7 linked regions of the Homo sapiens genome follow. The protein of the gene in region 6 purifies or fractionates together with the protein of the main gene of each other region. This does not show direct contact. Each region holds a gene or a part of one and is shown on either strand. Other genes may lie near its edges.

Region 1 (4,591 bases), on a different chromosome or scaffold from region 6:
GATCGATGTGGGGAAAACACCTTTCCCTTCTAGTTTTGAGAGAGTTCCTCTTGGCTCCCAGGAGGAGGGATTCTCTGACTTTGACACACATGGCCACCTTGGCAGAAAAGCCTTGTGGTATGGAAAATAAATTCATTTTTATGTCCTCTTCTCCCTTTCCATCTTTCAGCATAGATTTAACTCCTTTAAGCCAGACATCTGTTGGGACCTGGCCCTCAATCATTGGTTACCAGTATGTCAGGCACTCTGGACTTTCCAGTGATGCCACTGAGATGGCACCTGTCAAAAGAGCAGTGGTTCTGTTTCTAGATCGTGGATCTTCAGATAAATTCTACCATTTTCATTTCACTTCCTGAAAGTCAGGGTTGGCTTGTGAAAAGTTTAAACCACATGCTAAATGTGAAATGTCAACTCTCACTCTAAACTCTCCCTGTTCAGAGCATCAGATGAAGACTTCATTGAGTTTTATAGTGGCTTTCTGATTTTTGGTAGTCCTTTGAACAAGGGAGTTTGAAGTTTGCTGCATACTCTTAACAATTGTCTGCCCATATCCTGCCTGAAATACCATGAATGTTTATGGAAAGTATCTTTAATAAAGCTGGATGCAGTTTGGCTTGGAAAAAAAAAAAGCAAAACAAGGACCTTAACTACTGACAGCCAGAATAAAAAGAAAAGTGTATTGCATGCACATAACTTAAAAGAGGCTGGGAATAAATATGCTTAGGAAGATGAGACTATTTCTTTTTTAATTCTAAAATTAGGTATTCAACCAAACACTTCTAAAAGGAAAGGCTTTTTAAATATTTTTCTTAGCTACTCACTTTTAGCTGCAATGTGGGCTGTTCTCCAACCTTCTCACAATACAAACACATTTCTGGATTCTGGATTCCCAAATAAATGGGATCCCCTCTGCCTTGCTCAAGAGCCTCTGGATACTTGCATGTGATAACAGCAACAGTGACTGTAAAGATAAGAGGAGAGATGGTATCAGTTTCCTTTTGAAGTCAGAAAGATTATTTGATTTAGCAGGGCAGTATCCTCAAGTGGATCTGGAAGAGAGCTGAAGAGTGTAATCCCAACTAGACCCACCAAATGGCCAACCCCCATATTCATTCATTCATTCATTCATTCATACCATGTGCCAATCACTGCCCTAGTAAATGAGCAAACACAGAGAGCTAAGCAGACAACAGAGTATGCTCTTGAGATTCTCACGCCTCTGCTTGAGCACATGGAGATGGGGAGCTCCTACATCAAGCAGCCCCTCTGATTCTTGGAGAGCTTGGTCCCTTTTGCAAGTTTTTCCCAATGTGATGCTGAAACCTGCCTTTCTGTGGTATTCACCCATTTAGTCATTTTAGGACACCCTGAAGTCATGCAGAACAAGCTACTAGTCTTCCATAAGACAGGGCTTCAGATGACTGACAGCAGCTTTCCTATTCCCTTGGAGGCTCCTCCACCATCTCTGGCTTCTTCATCTTAGTGGAACCCAAAGTTCTCCCTGACTTCTCTTCCCAATTAGGTGTGAAATTCTCCCCACTCCTGGTGGGCCCCATTGTAAAGTCACACTTTTACAAAAGGCTGATGCCAGCTTCCCAGCCACAGCAGTGCAAACAGTGGGGAAGGCACAGGGTGACCACTCACCTGGGGTCACACTGTCACTTCGTGGAACTGCCACAAGGTTCTGACCCTGAAGGGTCCACACTTGCTGATTCAAATCATTAATAGTCCCAGTAATAGGTTTACACACTGATTTTGGGATAGAGAAAAAAATGAAGAAATATTATAATCAAGGCTGCTTTACTAGACCCAGGAGAAAAGTATCTAACCCAGGCCATTTTGTAAGGAAGGTGTGGGGTTTGCATCCCCAAACTGACAGCACTCACATCACCCATCAGCCTAGCCTTTCTTTCTAGTGAAGTTGTGAGCTCTGGTGAGGAAGGCAAGGGCTACCAAGGGAAGTCACTGGTTTAAGAGGGCAAACTATCAAGACAGAGGGCAATGAGCAGTCTCACAGAACCTGTGTGCCAAGGCCCAGCTACCCTCTTTTGTGCCTACTCTGTGCTTGGCCCCGGTGCTGGGGACTGGAGCTGGATCAGTGACTAAGCAATAGCTCCCACCCTCCAGAAGCCCAGGGCCCAGTGGTAGGTGGGCAGCACCAGGTGGGAAGGGCAGTGTACAGAGAGGAGCAGAGAAGGCTGGGGCTTCCACAGGAGATAGCGTGAGTGCAGAGGGCCTAAGCCTCCAGAGCCCCATCCCAACAGCATTTGATTCACTTGATTGATAGACGGCCCTTCCTCCACCATCAGCGTCTCCTGGAGTGCCTCTCATAGTGTGGTTGTCTCAGCACCTGTGAAAGCAGACATAGAACAGATGAACCACAAGAGATGTTTCCAAGACCTTCCAGGACACTAGCTCCACAGGCCCTCATTCTAGACAGGGAGCTGGGAAACCTGGCCTGACACGAAGCTCTGGGCAGAAGTTCTGAGCCACATCTGGGACGAAACTTGAAGGAAGCATCAGCAAAGGGAGAACAGGTAGAATTTTCCTCCACCTGGAGATCCAGATAGTATGGTAGTGTCTCCCCTAGGAGTTCGAAGGCCAGGCATAAAATTTGACCTTAAATAACCCACAGGCACCTGATGCCCTGACTCCTCTTCTCTGAAGCCTCCACCCCTTCATCGGCATTGTTTTTGCCTAGGAGCAGGGGAGGGTCCCATGCCAGGGCCACTCTGCCAGGATCCCAGCAACTCCCCAGTAAGAAGCAGCCACACATAGGACAAAGCACAGAGCCAGCCTGATGTGGCCCTTCCCTTCATTAAGCCCAAAGCACAGATGAGAGGAAAGGCTCCAGAGGGAGGGAGAAGAGGTTTTCCAGCTATTGACTATACCTGGCAAGAAAGGGTCTTTATCTACAGTCCAGGGGACTGAATCGTGGCTCCAGCAGCTTCCAAGGTCAGTGATGGGTTCTAATGGAGCCTGGATCATTTATCTGGATGAGCAGAGAAGGAGGCTCCAGCTTCCTGGGTGGGGCATGAGAAACGTATGACATGAAAGAAAACCAGCTCCTCCTACCAGAAGATCCTGTGAGGCTCGGAGGAAGAAATCACAGAATTAGCACAAGTATCACCTGTCCGGGCTCGCTGAGAAATAAGTGTTGAGCCAATCCGCACAAAATCAACCACAAGGAAATGAGGTTGATGACAGATCCTAGGTTTCTCATAAAGGGGAAACTAAGGGAATTTCCCAGAGTTCAGCTCTCCTGTCATGTCATTCTAGAGCTAGAACTGGAAATGCCAGGCACTCTCATGTCAGGGACTCCATCTCCTGGGACTGGGAGCCTTGCCCTCTGCAGTCAGGCTAAAGGCATCCTGTAAGAGCAAAATTAGCCACACGTCTCAGGCAAGGTCCCTGTGGCATTTCTCAACTACCCCACCTAAGGCCACACCTGAATGGAAAGCCAGGCAGTAGAGCTCCCCTACCTAACACTCTTTCAGCTCCATCCACATGGGGAGCCACAGGGACTATGCAGACTGGTCTTTTAACTGAGGCAATCCTAGTTTCAGGTACCCTCAAAATGCAGTGGACTCCAGAACTGCCTAAGGAAGTAAAGAGGTGGGCAGCGATTTCTCCCAAATCTGAGCCCCAGATGCCAGCTTATCCCCCACCCTCTGCCCTAGGTTCCTGATCAGTGGTAATAGTTATTTTTATATCTTGTTTATACACCCCATCCTATCTGCTGTAGCCAAGCCTAAAAATTTACTGAGGTATAAGTTAACTACTAGAGTGAAGTGAGTTTTAGGAGACAGACTTGAAGCACTAACAGCTTCAGGTTTACCCATCTATAAGGAAGAAAAGCACAAAGAATGAGACAGAACCTTCCAGATAAGCTCATCCATGAGCCCCTCTTCCCAGCCCTGCAAAGAGTCTCCTGACTCAACGTCTCTTACTTTTCACCCTAATCTCCTTTCTGGCCTTGGAAGAACACAGTCCTTTCCTGCCATGGCCCCAATTCTATCACTTTTGGCTTCCAGTGTTTCTGTGACCCTAGGAAAGAGTGTGGTAATGCCAGGTGCACTTTTGTTCAAAGTCAACCTGAGCCAGTGCCACCTCACTTGAGTCTCCATTGCCCTGTTAAAAATCCCCTCCATTACACATCAGTCAACATAACTCCTTTCTTGGGATGTTCACCACAAAACAGCATCTAAAATTCCCATCATTTGACCCCCCAAATCCCTTAAGCCTGAATTTCCAACTGGGATCCCTCTGAAAGCAGAATCCATGCTAGGAATTGCAAACAAAGGGAATTGAATAAAAGGAACTAGATACACGTGTGTTGGAAAGCCAAAGAAGATTAAGGGATTGCTGTGGTATCTCAGATAGTAACAACTACAGGAAGGAAACAAAAGGGAACAAAAGAACCTAGGTCTCAAAGGAGCGCTTTTGTAGGACTTATCCCCAGATATGAGTCGGAGGTGAGGCGTTCTCTGCCAAATTGATGCTCAGACCTCTGAAAAGAGAGTACAGTCTGGTCAATGCTTGGAGCATGAAGGTGGAGGGGAGGGGTCAAGAAGAGGATGCTCAGAGGACT
Region 2 (4,054 bases), on a different chromosome or scaffold from region 6:
CAGATACTTTTTTCAGAATTCACATTTTATATGGTAGAATCTACATCTGCAAACCGTGAGTATTGTCATTATAAATTATTAGCCTTTGGCCAGGCGTGGTGGATCACCTGTAATCCCAGCAGTTTGGGAGGCCGAGACAGGCGGATCACGAGGTCAGGAGATCAAGACAATCCTGGCTAACACAGTGAAACCCCGTCTCTACTAAAAATACAAAAAAATTAGCCCGGCCTGGTGGCGGGTGCCCGTAGTCCCAGCTACTCAGGAGACTGAGGCAGGAGAATGACGTGAACCCGGGAGGCGGAGCTTGCAGTGAGCCAAGATCGCACCACTACACTCCAGCCTGGGCCGCAGAGCGAGACTCCATCTCAAAAAAAAAAAAAAATTATTAGCCTTTGCACAGTTCTCTGGTGAGATGGTCAACAGCTAATGGTTACCATATAAGTACCATTAGATGGTTAACACACAGCTGTTCTTGCTTTTACATAACATGGAGAATAAGCAAACCATTCTACATATAATAGAACTTTATCCATTGTGAAAAATTTTTTATGGACAGATTGACCTAGGGGTTCTCATTGAAGAAATGTCAACTAATTTTTCATTTTCAAATCAACAAATAGCATTTTATTTCATGGGACGATTTATAAGGGTGTTGATTTGGAAATCCTAGGTTGCAAATTGCTGAGTGTTTCGGTTCTAGAACTAATGTTCCCCAGGAGGTAGATGGTAGTGATCAAGTCTCTCCCCCTTTAACTTTAAAAGGATGAAATCTGTAAGTACAGACCTGAGAATTCTGTTGCTAATGACACTGGCTTCACAGTGGTCGCACCTGGAAAGGAGAAGGCCCTGATGAAAGCAGTCGCAACTGTGGGGCCCATCTCCGTTGCTATGGATGCAGGCCATTCGTCCTTCCAGTTCTACAAATCAGGTAAGTGTCATTTTATTATAGAAATTTAGGCAGAATTGGGAAGCATCACTGTGATTGATTCTTGGATATGACATCCTGCTTTGCAGGAATGTAGTATTTTGAGAGTGAGCATTTAACATAGTGATGTTTGCATTTGACATGAGAAAATACTTAGTTATGTTAAACTTCTCATAAATATTTTTAAATGGCTATGTAATTGTATAGAGACAACCTAATTTTCCAAACTATTTTCCAGTTGTTGGGCCTTTTTTTCTCAAAGTTTTTTACTACTGTAATTAGGACTGTAAAGAATCCCCTTCAAGTTTTTGTTTGTTTATTTTGGTGCTATTTTAGACTGACATCCTAGGAACAGAAAGGGATTATGCGAGTTGGTATTTGGGCTCAGAGATATCTAAATCACCTTAGCTGTAAACAATAGGTTTTATCTTTTGGATTTTCATTTTTTTTGGTAGAAAATATCTTGAACTTAGTTGAAGTTAGTTGATTTCTAGTGAGTTGAGGTTGACTTTTTTCCTTTATCAGCCATTACTGTTTTCCGGCCAATATTGTTTGGGTCCTTATTTGGCATTTGTTTATGACATTTTACTGAATTTAGAGATGCCTCCCTTATGGAGGGTGGTAGGGTGGGTTACTGTCACATGTCGCTTGGAGCTTCTCACCCCAGCATTAATTTTACTCTCCCAGGCATTTATTTTGAACCAGACTGCAGCAGCAAAAACCTGGATCATGGTGTTCTGGTGGTTGGCTACGGCTTTGAAGGAGCAAATTCGAATAACAGCAAGTATTGGCTCGTCAAAAACAGGTATAAAACTCAAAATTGAAAAGGGAATTTTTGTTCCAAATCAGTATTTGGATACAAGTTCACAAAAGCTCAATTTCAAAATTCCGAAAGTCTTTCTTCTACTTAGAGTGAACACAGAAATATTAATGTTTGATTATAAGATTCCGTACCAAGCTTTTTGGAGTTATTGCTATGTATTTGTAATATTTTATTACTAAGTTTTGAAAATTTTTAAATTCTGAAACACATTAGTCCTCAAGGGTTTCAGACAAAGGACTGTGGACCTGTAGGTTTGAGAGCTGATTGCTTTTTTCTGTCTAATTTTTCAACAAGGAATAGTAAGCAGAAACATCTGCCTCTGCTGGTTCTTTGTTAAGTCTGAGAGATCATCCGGGAGTCCAGTGGTCTGTGTGCATCCTTCTATTGTCATTGGATGCCCTGTCATCGAATTTCACTCCCCAGCTCTCAGGCTTTGAAGGTTGTCAGAATCTATTTTCTCACAATTAGCATTCTTTAATTGAGATGTGACATAAGGTAGTATGTGGGGACAGACTGCTACAGTGGAATTCCAGTTCTGCCTCAGTATCTTAAATAGTTAAGGACCCACAAGAATCAATATATTCATTCATTCATTTGTTTATTTATTTTTTGAGACAGAGTGTCGCTCTGTCACCCAGGCTGGAGTGCAGTGGCACGATCTCAGCTCACTGCAACCTCTGCCTCCTGAGTTCAAGTGATTCTCCTGCCTCAGCCTCCCAAGTAGCTGGGACTACAGGGATGTGCTACCATACCCAGCTAATTTTTTTTGTATTTTTTAGTAGAGACGGGGTTTCACCATGTATGCCAGGCTGCTGTCGAACTGACCTCATGTGATCCGCCTGCCTTGGCCTCCCAAAGCACTGGTATTACAGACATGAGCCACCGTGCCCAGCCAGTTTTATTTTATTCTGAGATGGAGTCTTGCTCTGTCACTCAGGCAAGAGTGCAGTGGTGCAATCTCGGCTCACTGCAGCCTCCACCTCTCGGGTTCAAGTGATTCTCCTGCCTCAGCCTCCCAAGTAGCTGGGACTATAGGCATGCGCCACCACGCCTGGCCAATTTTTATGGGGGTTTTTTTGTTTGTTTTTTTCTTTTGAGATGGAGTTTTGCTCTTCTTGCCCAGGCTGAAGTGCAGTGGTGCAATCTTGGCTCACTGGAACCTCTGCCTCCTGGGTTCAAATGATGATTCTCCTGCCTCAGCCTCCCAAGTAGCTGGGATTACATGCCCGGTTAATTTTTTTTTTTTTTTTTTTTAATTTAGTAGAGGCAGGGTTTCACCATGTTGGTCAAGCTGGTCTCAAACTCCTGAAACCTCAGGTGATCCACCCGCCTCAGCCTCCCAAAGTGCTGGGATTACAGGCATGCACCGCACCTGGCCAATTTTTGTATTTTTAATAGAGACGAGGTTTCACCAGATTGGCCAAGCTGGTCTCAAACTCCTGACCTCAAGTGATCTGCCCACCTCGGCCTCCCAAAGTGCTGGGATTGCAGGCGTGAGCCACTGTGCCCAGCCTCAGGACATTTATAAATGGATATTAACAGCATTTAGAATAGTGCCTGACACATGGGAAGCACTGTTTAAGTATTAGCTATTATTATTAATGGAGCCAATTTTCCCTTGATTCCTTGTATAAAATGGAAAACCTGCTCCTCTTTCAGCTGGGGTCCAGAATGGGGCTCGAATGGCTATGTAAAAATAGCCAAAGACAAGAACAACCACTGTGGAATCGCCACAGCAGCCAGCTACCCCAATGTGTGAGCTGATGGATGGTGAGGAGGAAGGACTTAAGGACAGCATGTCTGGGGAAATTTTATCTTGAAACTGACCAAACGCTTATTGTGTAAGATAAACCAGTTGAATCATTGAGGATCCAAGTTGAGATTTTAATTCTGTGACATTTTTACAAGGGTAAAATGTTACCACTACTTTAATTATTGTTATACACAGCTTTATGATATCAAAGACTCATTGCTTAATTCTAAGACTTTTGAATTTTCATTTTTTAAAAAGATGTACAAAACAGTTTGAAATAAATTTTAATTCGTATATAAAGGTGGGCCTTTTTTTAATGCATTGGCTTTTTGTGTAGTCAGGAAATATAATTAAGCTCTGAAATAATAACTTCATGTGCCAATGGTATGTTAGGAGAAAGATGCTAGCAGAAAGCTGGCTTCCTGGCTCTTGAGTAGTTATAAAAATACAGACTTTATATCAGCTGCCCAGTTACTGTGTGTTACCCAACTCCTGAATCTACCAAAATTTGATAAACAATTTGGAAGGACAAACCTACATTTTTTTTTTTTAT
Region 3 (4,071 bases), on a different chromosome or scaffold from region 6:
TCACAAATGATGGAGGCTTGTTGTAAGAACACAGAACGCAATCTGAAGGAATTCTGAGAGACCAAATCTGGGACAATCATAACATCAGATTTTTCACCCATGGAATAAAATGGATATCCATGAGTCCATGATGTAAATAAATCATTGAATAAAGTAATAAAGGGAGCAGGGAGGGACAGCTCTTTCTTATAATAAAATTTCAATTAGATGGAAGGAGCTACTATATTGAATAGGAACAATAGACCAAAAAAAAAAAAAAAAAGAAGTGGGAAGGCTGGGCGAGTAGTTCACATCTATAATCCCAACACTTTGGGAGGCTGAGGCAGGTGGATTGCTTGAGCCCAGGAGTTCCAGACCAGCCTGGGCAACATGGTGAAACTCTGTCTCTACAAAAATACAAAAATTGCCAGGCATAGTGGTGCATCCCTGTAGTCCCAGCTACTCAAGAGGCAGAAGTGATGAGGGTCACTTGAGCCCGGGAGGTAGGGGTTGCAATGAGCTGAGATCGCGCCACTGCAATCCAGCCTGGGTGACAGAGCAAGACTCTGTCTCAAAATTAATTAATTAATTAATTAAAAGTTATTGGCCGGGCACAGTGGCTCATGCCTGTAATCCTAGCACTTTGGGAGGATGAGGCAGGCAGATTGCCTGAGCTCAGGAATTCAAGACCAGCCTGGGCAACACAGTGAAACCCCGTCTCTACTAAATTACAAAAACTTGGCCAGGCATGGCAGCGTGCGCCTGTAATCCCCGCTACTCAGGAGGCTGAGGCAGAAGAATTGCTTGAACCTGGGAGGTGGAGGTTCCAGTGAGCCGAGATTGCGCCACTGCACTCCAGCTTGGGCAACAGAGCAAGACTCCGTCTCAAAAACAAAACAAAACAAAGGTTATAAAATTTAAAAAGAAAAAAAAAGAAGGAGGGCATTAGAAAATTAGAAAATCACCATTAGGCAAATACCACACTAATTGTTGCCGATAAGATCCACTTATCAGCAGGATCTTTTAACAAGATGCTAAAATTAGTGAGCAAACATTGAGGAGAAATGGGATTTGCATTGTCTTGAGCCATCTCCCTCAAGATATTTATTAACTACAAAGGGAAGAATAATTACTTTATAGTGGAGAAACCCAGCAGGCACCTCCTTAATGAAACAATCAGGGTCAACATCAATAAGTCACAGCAATAAGTCACAGCCACATCTTGATTCTTCGTATCATGCGCCAAGAAGGGCACAACATCATATCTATGATAGTCTTGCCAAAAATACATAACTTAATTCCAGTGGTGAGAAAGTATCAGACAAATCCCAAACGAGAGATACTGTACAAAATAGCTGATCGGTACTCGGCAATACCAAGAGCATGAAAGACAAGGGAAGACTGAGAAACTAATAGATGGGAGGAGACTAGGGAGGCACAACAGCTAAATGCAATGTGAGATCCTGGATCGGATTCTGGAAGGGGAAATGGACATTAGTAGAAAAACGGGTGAAATTCAAATGAGATCTGTAGTTTAGTTAACAGGATTGTACCAATCTTGATTTCTCAGTTTTAATCATTGTTCATGGTTACGTAAAATGTTAACATCAGGGGAAACTGAGTGAGGGGAGACAGGAACTCTGTAATATTTTTGGAATGTTTCTGCTAAATCCAAAAGTAGTACAAAATTTAAAAGTTTTAAAATAGGCCGGGCATGGTGGCTCACACCTGTAATCCCAGCAGTTTGGGAGGCCGAGGCGGGTGGATCACTTGAGGCCAGGAGTTCAAGATCAACCTGCCCAACATGGTGAAACCCCATCTCTACTGAAAAATACAAAAATTAGGGGCCGGGTACAGTGGCTCATGCCTGTAATCCCAGCACTTTGGGAGGCCGAGGTGGGTAGATTACTTGAGGTCAGGAGTTCGAGACCAGCCTGGGCAACACGGTGAAACCCCGTCCCTACTAAAATACAAAAATTAGCTGGGTGTGGTGGCATGCACCTGTAGTCCAAGCTACTTGAGAGACTGAGGCAGGAGAATCGCTTGAACCTGGGAGGCAGAGGTTGCAGTGAGCCAAGATCTCACCACTACACTCTAGCCTGGGCAACAGAGTGAGACTACGACTCAAAAAAAAAAAAATGCAAAAATACAAATACAAAAATCAGCCAGGCATGGTGATGCGCGCTGGTAGTCCCAGCTACTCGGGAGGCTGAGGCAGGAGAATCCCTTGAACCTGAGAGGCAGAGGTTGCAGTGAACCAAGACCACACCACTGCACTCCAGCCTGGGCGACGGAGTGAGACTCTGTCTCAAAACAAACAAACAAACAAACAAACAAACAAACAAACCCACAAAGATCGTGGGCTTCTGAGCTAGCCTGCCGGCATTCAGATTCCCAGGCTGTGTGAACTGGGGTCAGACTCTTCCCCTGCTGTGAGTCTCTCTTGTCAAATGGGAGTAGCAATGGTACCTACAGCTTAAGGTTGATACCAGGTTAAATGAGTTATCCGTCTAAAGCACTTATAAGAGTGTATTTGCCATTGTTACTGTGTAGGCTGAAAAAGGACAGCCATGATCTCACTGGATTGTCACAGCAGCACTACGAGATGGGTTTTTACTGCCTTTCCCATTTTTACAGAGGCCTCCAGGCAAAGCGCTTTGTCCAAGGTCACTAGGCTGGCAAATGCCAAGCCAGTTCATTCATGTGGTTTCTGATTCCACATTGCAACTAACCTTTAAGAAACCCTCTCTCTGCTGGGCATGGTGGCTCACCCCTGTCATCCCAGCACTTTGGGGTGCTGAGGTGGGAGGATCACTTGAGCCCAGGAGTTTGAGACCAGCCTGGACAACATAGTGAGACCTTGTCTCTACAAAAAATAAAAAGAATTAGCCAGGCATGGTAGTGCACGTCTGTAGTCCCAGCTACTCAGGAGGCTGAGTCAGGAGGATCACTTGTGCCCAGAAGTTAGAGGCTGCAGTAAGCTATGATTGCGCCATTGCATTCCAGCGTGGGTGACAGAGTGAGACCCTATCTAAAAAAAAAGAAGAAACTATCTTCTTTGAAGATGTAAAAGACATGAAAAACAAGGAAAGATAAGGAATGACTGAGGAACTGGCACAGATAGAAAAGAGTAGGACTAGAGCCAGGCACGGTGGCTCACGCCTGTAATCCCAGCATTTTGGGAGGCAGAGGTGGGTGGATCACTTGAGGTCAGGAGTTCGAGGCCAGCCTGGCCAACATGGTGAAACCCCGTCTCTACTAAAAATACAAAAATTAGCCAGGTGTGGTGGTGCATGCCTGTAATCCCAGATACTTGGGAGGCTGAAGCAGGAGAATCGCTTGAAACCAGGAGGTGGAGCTTGCAGTGAGCCAAGATCATGCCATTGCACTACAGCCTGGCCAACAGAGTGAGGCTCCATCTCAAAAAAAAAAAAAAAAAAACAAAATTAGCTGGGCATGGTGTCATGCCCCTGTGGTCCCAGCTATTCAAGAGACTGAGGTGGGAGGATCGCTTGAGTCTCGGAGTTGAGGTTGCAGTGAGCCATGTTTGTGCTACTGCACTCCAGTGCCAAACCCTGACAGAGCCAAACCCTGTGTCAAAAAACAAGCAACTTTTCTCCCTGTTTCAACCACATGTCTGTGCAAGAACAGATTTTCTTCACAGGCAAAATCCAAAACAACAAATCACAACAGACTAAAATGAAAACAGATCTGAGGAGAATCCAGTTGTCAGTTACCAAACCAGATACTAAAGAGATTTTAGGCGGGGCGCGGTGGCTCATGTCTGTAATCCCAGCACTTTGGGAGGCCGAGACTGGAGGATCGCTTGAGCTTAGGAATTCAAGACCAGCCTGGGCAACATGGTGAAATTCCATCTGTATAAAAAATACAAAAATTAGCCAAGTATGGGGTGGTGGGTGCCTGTAATCCCAGCTACTCGGGAGGCTGAGGTGGGAGAATCACTTGAACCCTGCGGGGCAGAGGCTGCAGTGAGCCAAGACTGTGCCACTGCACTCCAGCCTGGTTGACAGAGCGAGACCCTGTCTCAAAAATAAATAAATAAATAAAAGATTTTTAAAAGATGCAAGTCAA
Region 4 (3,618 bases), on a different chromosome or scaffold from region 6:
TGCTCCCTTAGAGGTGGGCCTGTTTAGATGGGTGGAGGAGAAGGAGAGAATATTCCAGGGTGGAGAAATAGTTTCTACATTATATACTCATTGGGTTTCCATTATGTGCCAAGCATTATGCAAGGTGCTAAGAGACAAACTTATATGTCCCTAACCTTAAGGTCATCCCAGGGGCCACAGACTCCAAGTTAAGGTACTACAGTGCAGGGAGGTGCATACAAACATTGCCAGATCAGATAGCTGGGGGTGTCTCAACTCAGTAAAAGCTTCTTGGAGGAGGTGACATCTTAGCAGGGTATTGAAAGATGAGAGATTTATCTAGGCAGAGAGGATGGATGGAGGACCCAAAAGCAGAGGGAGCAGCACAAGACTGTGTCTGGGCCCATGGACAAAGAGAGTGTGAACAGGGTCTGAAACACAGCCTAGCATCCGGAGCTCATGTTCTTGGCAGCCCTGAGAGGCCTGGGGTAGGAGCTGTGCTGCCTGTTGCCTGAGGACTTCAGCTGAATCTGGGCTGGAGCTGTGAGGTCCATAGAGGCAGCCTTGTCTGTCCTGGCCACCTCCTTGCCAGTGCCTCAGTGGACTCTCAACCACCAAGCTGGTCCAACAGGTGAAGTGCAGGTGGAATACCTGGGGCTCAGATATGGGCTCCTCCTCTGGCTTCTGCTCCCATTCCCCAGGGTTTGGGTGGGGACACTGGAGTTCATTCCTGGCACATAGGACAAGAGGATCTCAATCTTGCAGAACCAGATGACTCAACAAATGCTGTATTATTAGCTTTTAAATAGAATATTTGGGTAAATGAAGGATAGTTGTTCATTGTGAGAAAGAAAATAAAAAATATTGGAGAAAATTGCAATAATAAAACAAATGCATTTGTTTCTCTTTCTCTGCATATTATTTATCTATTGCTGCATAACAAGTTAGACCAAAACTGAGCAACTTAAAACAACAAACATCGATTATCTCACAGAGTCTCTGCTTCTAGGTTCACTAATGTGGCTGTGGGCAGGAGACTTCATTTTTTACCACGTAAGTCTCTTTATAGGCCTGCTCATAGCATGGCAGCTAGCTTCCCCCAGAGCGAGTGAGCCAAGATAGATTGGGGGCGGTGGGTGGCAGAGAGAGAGGGCTCAAGTAGAAGCTGCAGTGTCTTTTATAACCTAATCTTGGAAGTGGCATGCCATCACTTCTGCCATATTCTATTGGTCACAAAGACAACTTTGGTACATTGTGGGAGGGGACACACACAGAATGTAAACACGAGGAGACAGGGATCATTTTAGCAGCTGTATTAGTTTCCTAGAGCTGCTGTAACCAATTATCCTTGGTGGCTTAAAACAGCCGAAATTTATTCTTTCTTCGTTCAGGAGGCTGGAAGTCTGAGATTAAGGTTTCAGCAGAGCCGTTATCCCTCTAAAGCCTCTAGGGAAGAATTCTTCTTTGCCTCTTCCAAGCTTCTGATGGTTGCCACAATCCTTGGTGTTTCTTAGCTTGTGGCTGCAAAACTCCGATCTCTGCCTTCATCTTTACATAGTCTTCCCCGCATCTCCTCTGTCTCTGTGTCCTCTCCTTTTCATACAAGGAAACCAGTCATATTGAATTTAGGTCTACCTTCATCCAGCATGACCTTGTCTTAACTAACTACATCTGCAGAGACCTTATCTCCAAATAAACTCACAGACTGAGATTCCAAGAAGGATGTGAATTTGAGGGGGACACAATTCAACCAGTACAGCAGCCTTCTTAGAGACTGGATCCAATGCCTTGGAATCCCAGGGGCTGTGATCCTTCTAGGAAAGAATTACCAGATGATTTTTGTTCTTTAAGTTCCTTACCCAGAGATTCCAGCCACACAAACTCAGCACAGCCTCCTCCTCAGTGGCTTTGCTGAGATCTGTTTCCTGATCACTACTACAACCAACCAGAGCAGCAGAGCTCGATTCAATTTGAATTTACTCTGGGGAAGTGGAGGCTGAGGACAATCAGAGATGATGTCTACTCTGCTTACCTCAAGATTAATTTCTTTTCTTATTTTTATACAAGGAATTCATCTTCATTGTAGAAAAATTAGGAAATACAGGTAAATTAACAGAATTAAAAGAAAAATCACCTATACTGCCACCACCCTGACATTGCTACAATTGAAGTAAACTCTTCCAGACTTTTTTCTATAAAGAAATATATAAATAGGTATCTTTTAATTAAAATAAATTGCAATATATGCCACTTTGTAAGTAGGTCTTCTCAATATGTCATGAGCACTTTTTCATGGGAATAGAGACCAGCATCTGGGATTTTGATTGTATCTTGGGTTTTTAAAAGAGGATCAGCATACCCTACTTATCTTTTATCTTCTGAGCTCGAGCCATTTCTTCTGACATCAGCACCTCCTCATGCCCACAACAAGATGATGAGGGAAGAGATAGGAAAGGTAGCATATGACAGTGGCAGGATTAAAGGGAAGGAGGTGGGGCTGGGCCAAGGGCCATAGATCCCTGACTCTATGACCACCTCCCTCTCCTGCATAGTGGTGAGTGACAGGTCTTCATGTGGAGAGCTACTGACCCTATAAGGCTCAACTGGGGATGGGTTGGCCTGCGGGGCTCAGGGTAACACTGGTCAGTTACCATTAAGCAGGAATGATTCCCACCACTCCCCCACCCCACCTCCACAGAAATCTTTTCATGTTATTCCCAGTTTACCCCACATGGTTTTTACAAGATTCCACAGCAGTAGCACCATCCAGTGGGGGAGGACCGTGGACTGAGCTCCAAATCTCAGAATTTATCCAAACTGGGAACCAGAAGACAAAGTGGTCAGGTGCCCACTAAGTCAGACGTGGGGGTCCTGAGAGCAGAGAGAGTGATTGTCCGCCATGGGTCTCCTCCACTCACCCCTCACCCGAGCTGGCTCTGCCCAGGGAGTTCTGGGGGGCACGTTGCCCTAGTCACACTGCTGGAAGTAGAAGTCTGTGATGGGGGCATTCCAGCCACCATTCTCGGGAAGCTGGGTGAGTCTGACAGGCTGATCGGCTTCAGGCACCGTGCACAGGAACCAGCCCGGGTAGGCAGCCGACTCGAAGCTGGAGGTGAGCCCCATGTCCCGCCGGTAGAAGGTGAAGCTCTTGGATTCCTTGGCACCAAGATAGAGCTCCATGATGTTCACTGGCTGCCGGCAGAGGAGGGGAGGTCAGGTGAGGGCAGAAGCAGGGGCAGAGGGAGGGCTGGGCAGGATCCTTAGGGAGGAGGCAAAGCTGCCATCAACAGAATCCTGCTAGGGTGTCCCACAGCACCAGGGCTGTGGGCTGCCCGGCTTCAGTAGGCTCAGCATCTGTGGCTGAGTCCCCAGTGAGGATGCCCCAAGTCTCACCTCTAGTGTTAGAGTCGGCTCCTGCCCCACCCCACATGACAGGCACTGGCTTCCACCCTGGACACCCAGGATGACGGGGGACAGGCTGGCATCCAGCCACCGATTGGGGACCACGCTGATCTCTTCACCTGTGGGAAAGAGGCCAGATGCAGGGCCCTGGATGCCTTTCCCTCCTTCTTCCCCTGTCCTGGGCTCTAGGGCACAGGACTGCTGTAAGACGGCCTGCCCCCAGGCTGGGCAGAAGGG
Region 5 (4,071 bases), on a different chromosome or scaffold from region 6:
CTGCCAGAGTTACCAAAGGGATCTTGATCTTCATGGTCATCTTTCCTTGGGCCCTCACACTTCTGACATAAAGATCTATCTCCAAACTGTGCATGTAGCATTTTGCTCCAAATGAGTTTACTGGATACGTGGCCAATGAAGAGGCTGCCAAAGAAAGATCAGAGAGGGCCGGGATGTGTCACAAGACATACCTGCCCAGGTGTGGCTGGGCAAGGCAACAGTGATTGGACTAGGTGGGCAAGGCACAATGTCAAAGGATATGGTGGGATCAAAAAGATTCAACAAATGCAATGCTGAACCTTACAAGAACTGTCGTGGGATCCACTTTAAAAAGGCAACATAGCAATGGGAGATAGAAAACAGTCTATGCTCAGGACTCAGATAGGCAATAGGCCATCACCACAAGGAAATCCCATATCATAGACCTGCAGCTCACGGGATAAGAACCAGGAAGAGCACTTGAGGTAGTAGCAGCCAAAGTTGAAAGTCTTGATAAGTAAAACACAAGAACACAAAGTCAGGAACACTAACACTCAAAGGGCCACACAAGTCCAAGGATTGGTGCAGACATACAAGAGAGTGGTTAAGCCCCAGAAGAGGAGTACCTGACTCTAAATGATGTCGCCCATCTTCTTTAGTGGGAAAAGCAGAGTAGAACTGAGTTTCATGGGAGAGAATAATTGGCCTACCTGCAACAGAGAGGACAAGGAGGCAGGTGTAGACAGATTTACCCACTTGAACCCATTATAGCCCTCATCACTGCTCAAACATCACTCTATTATCAACCCTATTGTTTGTGGCAACTAACTCTGCTAATGAAAATAAGTAGTAAGAGTGTAAGACACTGCTGTGGTTGGAATAGGTCTTCCAAAGCTCATGTGTTGAAAACTTAATCCCCACTGCAGTAGTGTTGAGAGGTGAGACCTGTAAGAGGAAATGAGGTCATGAGAGCTCTGTCCTCATGCATGGATTAATGGTGTTACCATGGGAGTGGGTTCATTACAGTAAGAGTGAGTTGTTATAAGGGTGAGTTCAGCCCCCACGTGCTCTCATGCTCTCTTGTCCTTCCACCTTCCACCGTGGGATGATGAAGTCCAAAGGCCTTTGTCAGATTCTGACACCTTGATATTGAGCTTCCCAACCTTCAAAACTGTGAGAAATAAATGTGTTTTCTTTATGAATTATCCAGTCTGTGATATTCTGTTATAGCAACACAAAATAGACTGAAAAGACACTTCGTCCTACTGTTGATTTGCATGATTCTTTCTCTACAGCTACCTCGGCCCTCCTCAGAGCCCAGGAACAGATACCTCCTGGAGTATACCACATCTCCCTGGTACTTACAGACAGTCAGAACAATCGGTGTGAGATGCCACGCAGCTTGACACTGGAAGTCTGTCAGTGTGACAACAGGGGCATCTGTGGAACTTCTTACCCAACCACAAGCCCTGGGACCAGGTATGGCAGGCCGCACTCAGGGAGGCTGGGGCCTGCCGCCATCGGCCTGCTGCTCCTTGGTCTCCTGCTGCTGCTGTGTGAGTAGCCAATGTTTCATTCTCTGTTGGACCAGGTGTCCTCATTTGCAAAGGCCTCCATGCTGCCCTGCTCATCTGTGCAATGGGGAAAGAATATTCTCTGATGTTTTATAGGTAAAGCTAGGGGAAAATGGCATTTTCAGAAAGAATCTGAAATGTGTAACATGTCGCTTGCTAACAGTCTATATTCATATAGCAACACAAGTTATATATGTCAGACATTTAGAAGACAGCACAAGATAATCAAGAGAAAAGCAAATCATGAAGACTTTCTACACACTGTTAGTAATGTTCATGGTCAAAATTATGGCTTTATCCAAGAGTGTGGCACTTTCTAAGATGTTTTCTCTATATTCATTACATCTCATGAGATTCTAAGATAAAAAGAGAACACTAGTCAAACAAAGTTAGGGAAATACAAATAGGGTATCATAGGCTATTAAGATATCACCACATGCTATTAATATTAATTAATTAATTAACCCCCACTAATATTAATCAATAGCATATGATATTAATATTAATATCATATGCTATTAAGATAGCTAGGTTCTGAGAAGTTATTGCTTCATCTAGCATTTCCTCAAAATAGATTGCCATCTGAATATGCATCCCCTTTAATACTTTCACATTTAATATAACTAAGTTTATTAAACACATTTAGAAAACTATGCGTAAGTATCCTTTTCCAATAAAGGTAAAATTTATTCAATAGATAGGTTTCTGAAAAGTTGTATTTGAATCAAAATCATATAAATCAAATAGTATTTGATTGTAAGAGGTCTCTATTTAAAAGAACTTCCTGACTAATTCTTGTATAAACAAGAGAAATCCTTGCTAAATTCACACTTTCTTAATTTATTATAAAAATCACAGTTTTAGAGTTAAAATTAATTATATGATTATTAATTTTAAAACCACAAAAAGTAGAGAAAATGTGTAGACAACTACACATACAACCATCACTTCAACTGAACAGATATGAATGTTTTGCAATATTTTTTCAGGTCCCTTTTTTTAAAAAGAAATAAATTGCTATAGATACAGCTAATTGCCACACATGCTATATTTTTCCCTTCCTTATTCTCCAAAAGCATTTACTATTCTAAAGTTATTATACACCATTTAGTTTAAGAGCTGAAATTGACACTCAGAGATTTGGTTTTTCAATATCGTATTAATCAAGTTCAAGAACCAGAAATTTTTAAGTACCTCTATGTGAATCACTATGCTAGCTTCTAGCTGAAAAGGAAACTTGATTTTGGTTTTCATGCATGTCTAACTATAGGGGAAAAATACCATGATAAAGCTGTAATAGAAATTACTACAAAGGGGTAATTACAGAACATTTCACGGAATAGAGGAATCATTCAATTGAGCCTTGAAGAATGATTAGGATATAATCAGTATAAAAAATGGAAAAGGCATTTCCAAAAATTGACAGCATCAGCCAAGGCCAGAAAACACTTAGTATTTTCTGTTTTAGGAATCACACAGCCTTCGAAGGCTAAAGCGCGGGGAAATTGTGGAAAGTGAAGGAGCAACAGAGAATGCATTGGGACTAATTTGAAAGGGCTACATACACATGCTGTGGTGTTTGTACTTTATCCTATGAGAAAGAGGAGCTGCTAAAAGCATTTGAATAAAAGACTAACATGATCATATTTGTATTTTAGAAAGACAACCCTGGCAACAGTGTGTACAGTATAACAGTGTAAATTAGAAAGGAAAGAACACTTAAGAGGTCATTGTAAAAGTTCAAGAGAGATGATGAAGGTCAGATTTCGAGCTGTGACATGAGACTGGAAAATAAAGGACAAGTGTGCAGTGCATTACAGTGGCCCCTGGAGAGGATTGGGAGATTAATTGTTATGGTCTGAATGTGTGTGTCCCCCCAAAAAAATTCATATGTTGAAACTTAAACCCTAAAAAAATAGTATTAAGGAGTTGGGCCTTTACCTATATTAATTCAATCCTCATAACAACCTATGATGTAGATACTATTTATTCCCCCATTTTATGGATGAGTTAACTGAGCAAAGAAGGATGATATTACATGCCCAACATTACATAGCTGTTAAGTGGTACAGCCGAAATTTAAACCCTAGAATCTGACTTCGGAGGCTGCATGCTTAAACCCCTCACTAAGCTGCCTCTAAGTGAAGAGAGTTGAAACATTAGGATTCAGGTGGCCTTGGCAGGGCAGAGGTGGCAGTGGGGCCACTGACAACAAAGTGTGGGAAACACCTGCTTTCAAGAATAAGTATTTCACTCTTGGTCAGTTCACATGAGAATGACATTAATCTTTATTGCCAAGGATGTGCACAGAAAGATATTTACGCTGCCAGAAGAGTCCTCCAAGCTTAAGCCACAACTAAGAAATTCTTAAATTACAATTAAGAATGCATTGACAGCCATTGATTAGGCTATCACCCTAGTTACTGAGGGAGTTTTCTGGTTAATTACTGTTTACTGAGAGATAATTAGAGACTAGATTACCAAAACACCATCGTGCCCACCTAAAATCTGGACCATT
Region 6 (4,071 bases):
AATTTTAGCATGGCTTCTTCCTGATAACAGTTTTGTCCTCTTGCTTTGAGAAGGAGCATATGGGCATTCCACTTATGGTTTCCATGGGCTGCATCTCAGATTCCTGTTCATTCTACGGGTTTCACTGTAGACAGAGTACTTTGTATTTAATGGCCGGGTGCGGTGGCTCACACCTGTAATCAGCACTTTGGGAGGCCGAGGCAGGTGGATCACTTGAGGTCAGGAGTTCCAGATCAGCCTGGCCAACATGATGAAATCCCATCTCTACTAAAAATCCAAAAATTAACCAGGCATGGTGGCGGTTGCCTGTTATCGCAGCTACTCAGGAAGCTGAGGCAGGAGAATCACTTGAACCTGGGAGGTGGAGGTTGCAGTGAGCCGAGATTGCGCCACTGTACTCCAGCCTGGGCGACAGAGCAAGACCTCATTTCAAGAAAAAGAGTACTTTGGCTGGCGCCAACAGGGTCCAGGTCTGTGCCTGCCATTGGAGAGGATGCCACAGCCACAGGGGTGGGCGCTGGCCTGGAGGCCTCCAAGGGGCATCTCCTGTGAGCCCAGGGGATGGGCAGGATCTGAGCGGAGAAGAGTGAAAGTGGAGGAGTGAGGCCAGAACAAAGGCTTTGCCGTGAAAGAGGTGGTTTCCCGCCTAGGCTCTGACCTTCACTCACTGTGTGGCCCAGGCCAAGGGCAAGCGTCTGACCTCGCTGGGCCTTTGTTTCTCAGGGGTAAGATGAAACAATGGCTCCCTCTCCCTCTCCCTCTCCCTCTCCCCACGGTCTCCCTCTCCCTCTCTTGCCATGGTCTCTCTCTGTCTCTGATGCCGAGCCGAAGCTGGACTGTGCTGCTGCCATCTCGGCTCACTGCAACCTCCCTGCCTGATTCTCCTGCCTCAGCCTGCCGAGTGCCTGCGATTGCGGGCGCGCGCCGCCACGCCTGACTGGTTTTCGTATTTTTATGGTGGAGACGGGGTTTCGCTGTGTTGGCCGGGCTGGTCTCCAGCTGCTAACCGCGAGTGATCCGCCAGCCTCGGCCTCCCGAGGTGCCGGGATGGCAGACGGAGTTGCGTTCACTCAGTGCTCAATGGTGCCCAGGCTGGAGTGCAGTGGCGTGATCTCGGCTCGCTACAACCTCCACCTCCCAGCTGCCTGCCTTGGCCCCCCAAAGTGCCGAGATTGCAGCCTCTGCCCGGCCACCACCCCTTCTGGGAAGTGAGGAGCGTCTCTGCCTGGCCGCCCATCGTCTGGGATGTGAGGAGCCTCTCTGCCTGGCTGCCCAGTCTGGAAAGTGAGGAGCGTCTCTGCCCGGCCGCCATCCCATCTAGGAAGTGAGGAGCGTCTCTGCCCGGCCGCCCATCATCTGAGATGTGGGGAGCGCCTCTGCCCTGCCACCCCGTCTGGGATGTGAGGAGCGTCTCTGCCCGGCCGCCCCGTCTGAGAAGTGAGGAGACCCTCTGCCTGGCAACTGCCCTGTCTGAGAAGTGAGAAGCTCCTCCGCCGGGCAGCCACACCGTCTGAGAAGTGAGGAGCCCCTCCGCCCGGCAGCCACCCCGTCTGGGAAGTGAGGAGCGTCTCCGCCCGGCAGCCACCCCGTCCGGGAGGTGAGGAGCCCCTCCGCCCGGCAGCCGCCCCGTCTGAGAAGTGAGGAGCCCCTCTGCCGGGCCAGCCGCCCCGTCCGGGAAGGAGGTGGGGGGGTCAGCCCCCTGCCCTGCCAGCCGCCCCGTCCGGGAGGTGAGGGGCGCCTCTGCCCGGCCACCCCTACTGGGAAGTGAGGAGCCCCTCTGCCCGGCCAGCCACCCCGACCGGGAGGGAGGTGGGGGGGTCAGGTCAGCCCCCCGCCCGGCCAGCCGCCCCGTCCGGGAGGTGAGGGGCGCCTCTGCCTGGCCGCCCCTACTGGGAAGTGAGGAGCCCCTCTGCCCGGACAGCCGCCCCGTCCGGGAGGGAGGTGGGGGGGTCAGCCCCCCCCCCCCCCCCCCCCCGGCCAGCCGCCCTGTCCGGGAGGTGAGGGGCGCCTCTGCCCGGCCGCCCCTACTGGGAAGTGAGGAGCCCCTCTGCCCGGACAGCCGCCCCGTCCGGGAGGGAGGTGGGGGGGTCAGCCCCCCGCCCGGCCAGCCGCCCCATCCGGGAGGGAGGTGGGGGGGTCAGCCCCCCGCCCGGCCAGCCGCCCCGTCCGGGAGGTGAGGGGCGCCTCTGCCCGGCCGCCCCTACTGGGAAGTGAGGAGCCCCTCTGCCCGGCCACCACCCCGTCTGGGAGGTGTACTCAACAGCTCATTGGGAACAGGCCATGATGACAATGGCGGTTTTGTGGAATAGAAAGCGGGGAAAGGTGAGGAAAAGATTGAGAAATCAGATGGTTGCCGTGTCTGTGTAGAAAGAGGTAGACATGGGAGACTTTTCATTTTGTTCTGTACTAAGAAAAATTCTTCTGCCTTAGGATCCTGTTGATCTGTGACCTTACCCCCAACCCTGTGCTCTCTGAAACATGTGCTGTGTCCACTCAGGGTTAAATGGATTAAGGGCGGTGCAAGATGTGCTTTGTTAAACAGATGCTTGAAGGCAGCATGCTTGTTAAGAGTCATCGCCACTCCCTAATTTCAAGTACCCAGGGACACAAACACTGCGGAAGGCCGCAGGGTCCTCTGCCTAGGAAAACCAGAGACCTTTGTTCACTTATCTGCTGACCTTCCCTCCACTATTGTCCTATGACCCTGCCAAATCTCCCTCTGCGAGAAACACCCAAGAATGATCAATTAAAAAAAAAAAAAAGAAAAAGAGTACTTTGTATTTGTATTTAAGAAATCAGATGTCAGAGATTAGCCTTTGTGGGATTATTAGTGTGTTCCTCACACCAACTTAATAAGTTTCCCTGAAATGAGGTCCATTTTCTTTGACTTTTTCATTGGCATGAGTAAAACTTTTTTACTAACACAGAGACAGGGAACTCTCACATTGTTCATTCATTCTGCAAATATTTATTCAGTGTCCCTAAAGTATGTGCTTTATCCTCTAATCTGCAGCTTTTGAATGATAGTTAATTAGGTCTTGAATAGACTAGCTCATCTTATCTGACTTTAAGTGCATCTGACCTGTGCCAGCAGATTAATTTATAAATTTATAACTGAGGGTATTCTGTTTCAGTGACTATAAAACTCATTTGTTTGTTAGCATACTCTTGTCTTTGAATTTCTCAAGTATCAAGAAATCAAAAGCAATCAGATGGTTGTTTAGTACATATAGAATCAGCAAGGAAATTGCATGATCTTTAAGAGAAATTCCATCCAGATTGTGATAAATGCTAAGGAATTACTCATATTTCACTTCAAATAATTTTTTTTTAATTTTTTTTTTTTTTATTGATCATTCTTGGGTGTTTCTCGCAGAGGGGGATTTGGCAGGGTCATAGGACAATAGTGGAGGGAAGGTCAGCAGATAAGCAAGTGAACAAAGGTCTCTGGTTTTCCTAGGCAGAGGGCCCTGCGGCCTTCCACAGTGTTTGTGTCCCTGGGTACTTGAGATTAGGGAGTGGTGATGACTCTTAACAAGCATGCTGCCTTCAAGCATCTGTTTAACAAAGCACATCTTGCACCGCCCTTAATCCATTTAACCCTGAGTGGACACAGCACATGTTTCAGAGAGCACAGGGTTGGGGGTAAGGTCATAGATCAACAGCATCCCAAGGCAGAAGAATTTTTCTTAGTACAGAACAAAATGAAGTCTCCCATGTCTACTTCTTTCTACACAGACACAACAACAATCCGATTTCTCTATCCCTTCCCCACCTTTCCCCCTTCTCTGTTCCACAAAACCGCCATCGTCATCATGGCCCGTTCTCAATGAGCTGTTGGGTACACCTCCTAGACGGGGTGGTGGCCGGGCAGAGGGGCTCATCACTTCCCAGAAGGGGCGGCCGGGCAGAGGCACCCCCCACCTCCCGGACGGGGCGGCTGGCCGGGCGGAGGCACCCCCCATCTCCCTCCCGGATGGGGCGGCTGGCTGGGCGGGGGCTGGCCCCCACCTCCCTCCTGGATGGGGCAGCTGGCCGGGCGGGGGCTGACCCCCCACCTCCCTCCCGGAC
Region 7 (3,985 bases), on a different chromosome or scaffold from region 6:
TGGGCACTCTCCTCTACAGTGGTTTGCCTAATAACACCATTGTTGAGTCAGGACAGAAATGGCCCTGAGATCCACCTCTTCTGAACCCCAAGCCAGGCACACTCACCTTTAAAGAAGATGTAATTCACCAGGACCATCATTGTCTGCGAGTCAAGGTCCTTGATCAGATCTGTGATTTTCCCCCTAGTTCCATTCTTCACGTAGTCGTTGATGAGCTTCTTAGCTGCAGCTGAGTCCTGAAAGTCAGTGGCAAAGGCCTCGGAGCCATACAGCCTCTTGGCATCCTCCGTGAACCTGTCCAGCAGACTGAGTTGCTCTTTGACAAACATGGCATTTCCCATACTCAGCTGCAGCTCATCGCTGGACTGATTGAGGGTGCGCAGGAGGTGCTGGAAGCTCTGGTGAATTTCTGCCTCAGAAGTCTCCGTGAGGTTGAACTTGAGGCCTTTGAGAATCTCTGTCAGGGTGGTATTATGGGCCCCCAGAGACAGGAAGGCCAAGGCGGTGGAGATGCTCAGTGGGGAGAAGATGACATTCTTATCAGGGGCCTTCAGGACTAACTGCTTGTACAGGCTGAAAGCGAAGTCCACGTTGGCGGAGGCTAATCCGAGGTCCACGTGTGTCCCTCGGTCTTGGTTCTCCTGGGTCAGATTCTCCTCGTCAAGTGGGCTGTTAGGGTGGCAGAGGACAGCAGGGCAGAACCCAGCCGCCAAGAGCCCCAGAGCCAGGAGAGGTAACATTCTCTCCATTCTCAACTCTGAAAAGCAAAGCTCCTTTAAGTCTCAGAGGGCCAGATGGAGCCCCGACCACCTCCCACTGCCCTCCACCCAGCCTGCGTCCTGGTCCCTGTCCTGCTGCCTCTTGCTAGCTTTGGAGCCTCCCTCAGGTAGGTGCTCTCTGGGGCACCCGACACACATCACTCTGCTTCATTTCACCCTTTGAGGTAGGTACCATAATTGTTGCCATTTTCTTGCAGTGGAAAAGCCGGGCACAGAGCGGTGAGGGGGCTTGCCCAAGATCATACAGCAAACAGGTAAAGGAGCCCAGTGGGCAGCCAGGTTTGCCTGGCTCCTCGGTCTGTAAGCTGATGGGGGGTCCGAGGTTCAGTCCAATCAGAATGCCTGCTCCTCTCCTGCTTGGTGAGCAGATCTCATCCTAGGGGATTAGAAAGCAGGGGCTCCCTTCCTTCATTCTCCCAACTGCCACCAAAGTAGAACCCAGGGATGAAGGAGCCCTGGGCAGAGATAGAGGCCACAGTGACTCTCCCAGCCTCTAGATGTCACGTGGTGTGGCCTCCACAGGCCTCCACGATGTGATGCTGGGTGGCAGTGAGGGTCGACTGAGAGAGGGAAATGAAAGTCCCTGGTACAGTGTCTGGAGCCTCGATGGCCCTGATAATGGTTGGCAGCAAGACCAAAGAAAGGCAAATGTTCTTCTCTGCCCCTGCCAGGTTGCCACGTGGTGTCTGTGTCCACCATAAGCCTGGAAGGGCCTCTTAGTGGGGAGAAGGCAGAGAGGGCTTTGGAGTCTCCCAGACTTGGACTGGGATTTTATTTTGGCCACTTTTGATTGCTGTGTACTGGCAAGCAGGTGACTGTACATCTCTCAACCTGTTTCCGTCTCTGCACAACCTGTTAAGTGGCTCAGGTGAGATAAATGATGAAGGCACCTGGTTCATATTAGACGTACCGAGCAGTCACCACCTCCCATACTACCCCTTTCCTGAAACTACAAGCCAGAGAAGAGCCATGAGCTACTGCACAAGAGACCCTGGAAGGGCTGAGTTCCAAGCCGGTGACCGCAGCAAACAAGATTATTCACCTTCAGCCTCCGCCCACTCAGTCCTAGAATTCAGAAGAGAAAAGGGGCAGCTTGGGTGCTGGGGAGAAGAGTGGGGAAGAGAGGCGATTGGAAGGGAGGGGAGGGGAGAGGGGTAGAGAGAGGAGAAGAAAAGGGGAAGAGAGAGTGGAAGGAAGGGAAGGAAGGAAAGGAAGGGAAGGAGGGGAAGGAGGGGAAGGAGGGGAAGGAGGGGAGGCCAGTGGAAATGCCTTTGGCCAAGCCCAGGGACAGAGGCACCTTGTTTGCTTCAACTGTTCACTCTCAGGCTGATGCAATCATTTCTCTGGATAAATGTTAGACAATATTTTTCTCCAGAATTATTTCAGGGGCAAAGGCTTGTCTTTTCTGTTTGGGCAAGTTGGAGGGCTGGCTGTTTCCCAGCAGTTTGTCTTTTCTGTTGCTGGACAGAGACACAGCCCATCTGTCGACTTGGCCAGGGGTCCTTTTGGGGAAGTGGAGCTCCCGAGGCAGCCCCATGGAGACCCTGAAATCATGGTGAGGCCTGTGGCCTCTGCTCAGAGGGACCTGCTGCAATAATCACATCTGCCACATGTTCTGAGAGCTGCACCCTGCTCCAGGCAAGGGGACAGCACCTCTTCCCTGAGGGTCAGATGCACAGCTGACTCAAATCCGAATCTGTAAGTATCAAGGCAGAAATGACCATAGAGGCCCCAGGGCACCTCCACCCTTTGCAGGTGTGAAAACCCAGACACAGAGGATGCCTCTAAAAAAGGCACAGGGAATCAGTGGCAGCCAAGAACAGACCCCTGGCCCCTAACACCTGAGTACACCTCCTCCTGGCCTCTGCTTACCCCTCACACTCCACACACTCCAGGCTGCTGCCTAAAACTCTCCTGGAAAAACAGATTCCTCCGCTCCCAGGATGTAAAACATCATGGATTACCTGCCTCAGGGAGCTGGATGTAGCTGGTGGATTCCAAAGCCGTCTGTCTGGAGTAGTGGATTTTCATGAATGCTGAGGCTTATTTATTCCTGCAGAGAACTCCTCCCCCTGCTTGGGAAATGCCAGGACAACCAAGTGTTCTGTTCTCGGACTGGAAATGACCAGATGATAATTTCTGGTAATACGGGCTTGTTAGACCTACTCAAATAACCTGGTTATGGGACTAGCTCTAATCTCTTCCTCCAAAGGTCAAAAAAGCACACAGAAAAAATCCTTTGTTGTATTAGTTTTTATCTGCTTATTAAATACTCATTGAAGAACATGGAAAAACTCAGAGAATGTAAAGAAGGACTTTGGAAAATATCCCCCAGCACTTTACTACCCAGAGAAGACCCCAGCTAACATTTTGGTATATTTCTTTTTTATTTCTTTTTATTTTTTATTTTTATTTTGAGACAGAGTCTTGCTTTGTTGCCCAGGCTGGAGTGCAGTGGCGTGATCTCAGCTCACTGCAACCTCTGACTCCCGGGTTCAAGCAACTTTCTGCCTCAGCCTCCCGAGTAGCTGGGACTACAGGCACACACCACCACGCCCAGCTAATTTTTGTATTTTTCGTAGAGACAGGGTTTCACCTTGTTGGTCGGACTGGTCTTGAACTCCTGACCTCGTGATCTGCCCACCTCAGCCTCCCAAAGTGCTGGGATTACAGGCATGAGCCACCGCACCCAGCCACATTTTGGTGTATTTCTAAAGCACTTTTCTTTGGTGTCTCTGTGTGTGTGTGTGTGTGTGGCTGCATGTGTGTCTGTGTGTCTGTGTGATGTGAATGTCCATATACAAACCTAGATATATTTTTAAAATACAGGACTCTATTTTTCTGTGGATCAGTTTGCATTTTTGGCACCCCTTCACCAACCCCAGAGAGTAGGGCACCTAGAGAGGGGTGTGGAGGGGAGCTTTCGGGGAGCACAGGTGTTGTGAGGAACCCCTTGTCCTCAGGCTCTGTTTCTCTGTGGGGGCCTCCTCAGCCTTGGCCTCTGTCCTGCTGAGCCTCTGCGATTGGTTCACCCCAACAAGTGGTTGTCCCTCCTCCCCGGCCTTCAGGTATCCTTGGGCCTCTCTCTTAGCTAGTCTGGGGTCTTTCTTTGGCTCATGAAAAAGGAAAAAAAAAATCCTGGGCGGGACTAGTGGCTCATGCTGGTAATCCCAGCATCTTGGGAGGCTGACGTGGGCAGACCACCT

The links.
Region 1: the proteins of RNF115 (region 6) and IL36G purify together in Homo sapiens (affinity purification with mass spectrometry; one large-scale study listed by BioGRID and IntAct). This does not show direct contact.
Region 2: the proteins of RNF115 (region 6) and CTSV purify together in Homo sapiens (affinity purification with mass spectrometry; one large-scale study listed by BioGRID and IntAct). This does not show direct contact.
Region 3: the proteins of RNF115 (region 6) and ACP7 purify together in Homo sapiens (affinity purification with mass spectrometry; one large-scale study listed by BioGRID and IntAct). This does not show direct contact.
Region 4: the proteins of RNF115 (region 6) and IL36RN purify together in Homo sapiens (affinity purification with mass spectrometry; one large-scale study listed by BioGRID and IntAct). This does not show direct contact.
Region 5: the proteins of RNF115 (region 6) and DSG3 purify together in Homo sapiens (affinity purification with mass spectrometry; one large-scale study listed by BioGRID and IntAct). This does not show direct contact.
Region 7: the proteins of RNF115 (region 6) and SERPINA3 purify together in Homo sapiens (affinity purification with mass spectrometry; one large-scale study listed by BioGRID and IntAct). This does not show direct contact.

What each region holds. Positions count from the first base shown.
Region 1 is NC_000002.12:112,976,379-112,980,969, reverse strand, and holds the start of IL36G (interleukin-36 gamma), read right to left. Parts: upstream 2,965-4,591; 5' UTR 2,892-2,964; intron 2,351-2,891; 5' UTR 2,332-2,350; coding exon 2,277-2,331; intron 1,750-2,276; coding exon 1,645-1,749; intron 962-1,644; coding exon 822-961; intron 4-821; exon of another isoform or gene 1-3. UniProt on the Homo sapiens protein: Cytokine that binds to and signals through the IL1RL2/IL-36R receptor which in turn activates NF-kappa-B and MAPK signaling pathways in target cells.
Region 2 is NC_000009.12:97,032,402-97,036,455, reverse strand, and holds part of CTSV (cathepsin L2 preproprotein), read left to right. Parts: intron 1-762; coding exon 763-928; intron 929-1,612; coding exon 1,613-1,730; intron 1,731-3,407; coding exon 3,408-3,507; 3' UTR 3,508-4,054. UniProt on the Homo sapiens protein: Cysteine protease. May have an important role in corneal physiology.
Region 3 is NC_000019.10:39,086,982-39,091,052, reverse strand, and holds part of ACP7 (acid phosphatase type 7 isoform 1 precursor), read right to left. Parts: intron 1-4,071.
Region 4 is NC_000002.12:113,062,006-113,065,623, reverse strand, and holds the end of IL36RN (interleukin-36 receptor antagonist protein), read right to left. Parts: intron 3,501-3,618; coding exon 3,373-3,500; intron 3,172-3,372; coding exon 2,947-3,171; 3' UTR 880-2,946; downstream 1-879. UniProt on the Homo sapiens protein: Inhibits the activity of interleukin-36 (IL36A,IL36B and IL36G) by binding to receptor IL1RL2 and preventing its association with the coreceptor IL1RAP for signaling.
Region 5 is NC_000018.10:31,467,815-31,471,885, forward strand, and holds part of DSG3 (desmoglein-3 preproprotein), read left to right. Parts: intron 1-1,274; coding exon 1,275-1,535; intron 1,536-4,071. UniProt on the Homo sapiens protein: A component of desmosome cell-cell junctions which are required for positive regulation of cellular adhesion. Required for adherens and desmosome junction assembly in response to mechanical force in keratinocytes.
Region 6 is NC_000001.11:145,764,694-145,768,764, reverse strand, and holds part of RNF115 (E3 ubiquitin-protein ligase RNF115), read left to right. Parts: intron 1-4,071. UniProt on the Homo sapiens protein: E3 ubiquitin-protein ligase that catalyzes the 'Lys-48'- and/or 'Lys-63'-linked polyubiquitination of various substrates and thereby plays a role in a number of signaling pathways including autophagy, innate immunity, cell proliferation and cell death.
Region 7 is NC_000014.9:94,611,206-94,615,190, reverse strand, and holds the start of SERPINA3 (alpha-1-antichymotrypsin precursor), read right to left. Parts: upstream 2,801-3,985; 5' UTR 2,744-2,800; exon of another isoform or gene 2,652-2,743; intron 1,845-2,651; exon of another isoform or gene 1,822-1,844; intron 1,156-1,821; exon of another isoform or gene 952-1,155; intron 758-951; 5' UTR 750-757; coding exon 107-749; intron 1-106. UniProt on the Homo sapiens protein: Although its physiological function is unclear, it can inhibit neutrophil cathepsin G and mast cell chymase, both of which can convert angiotensin-1 to the active angiotensin-2.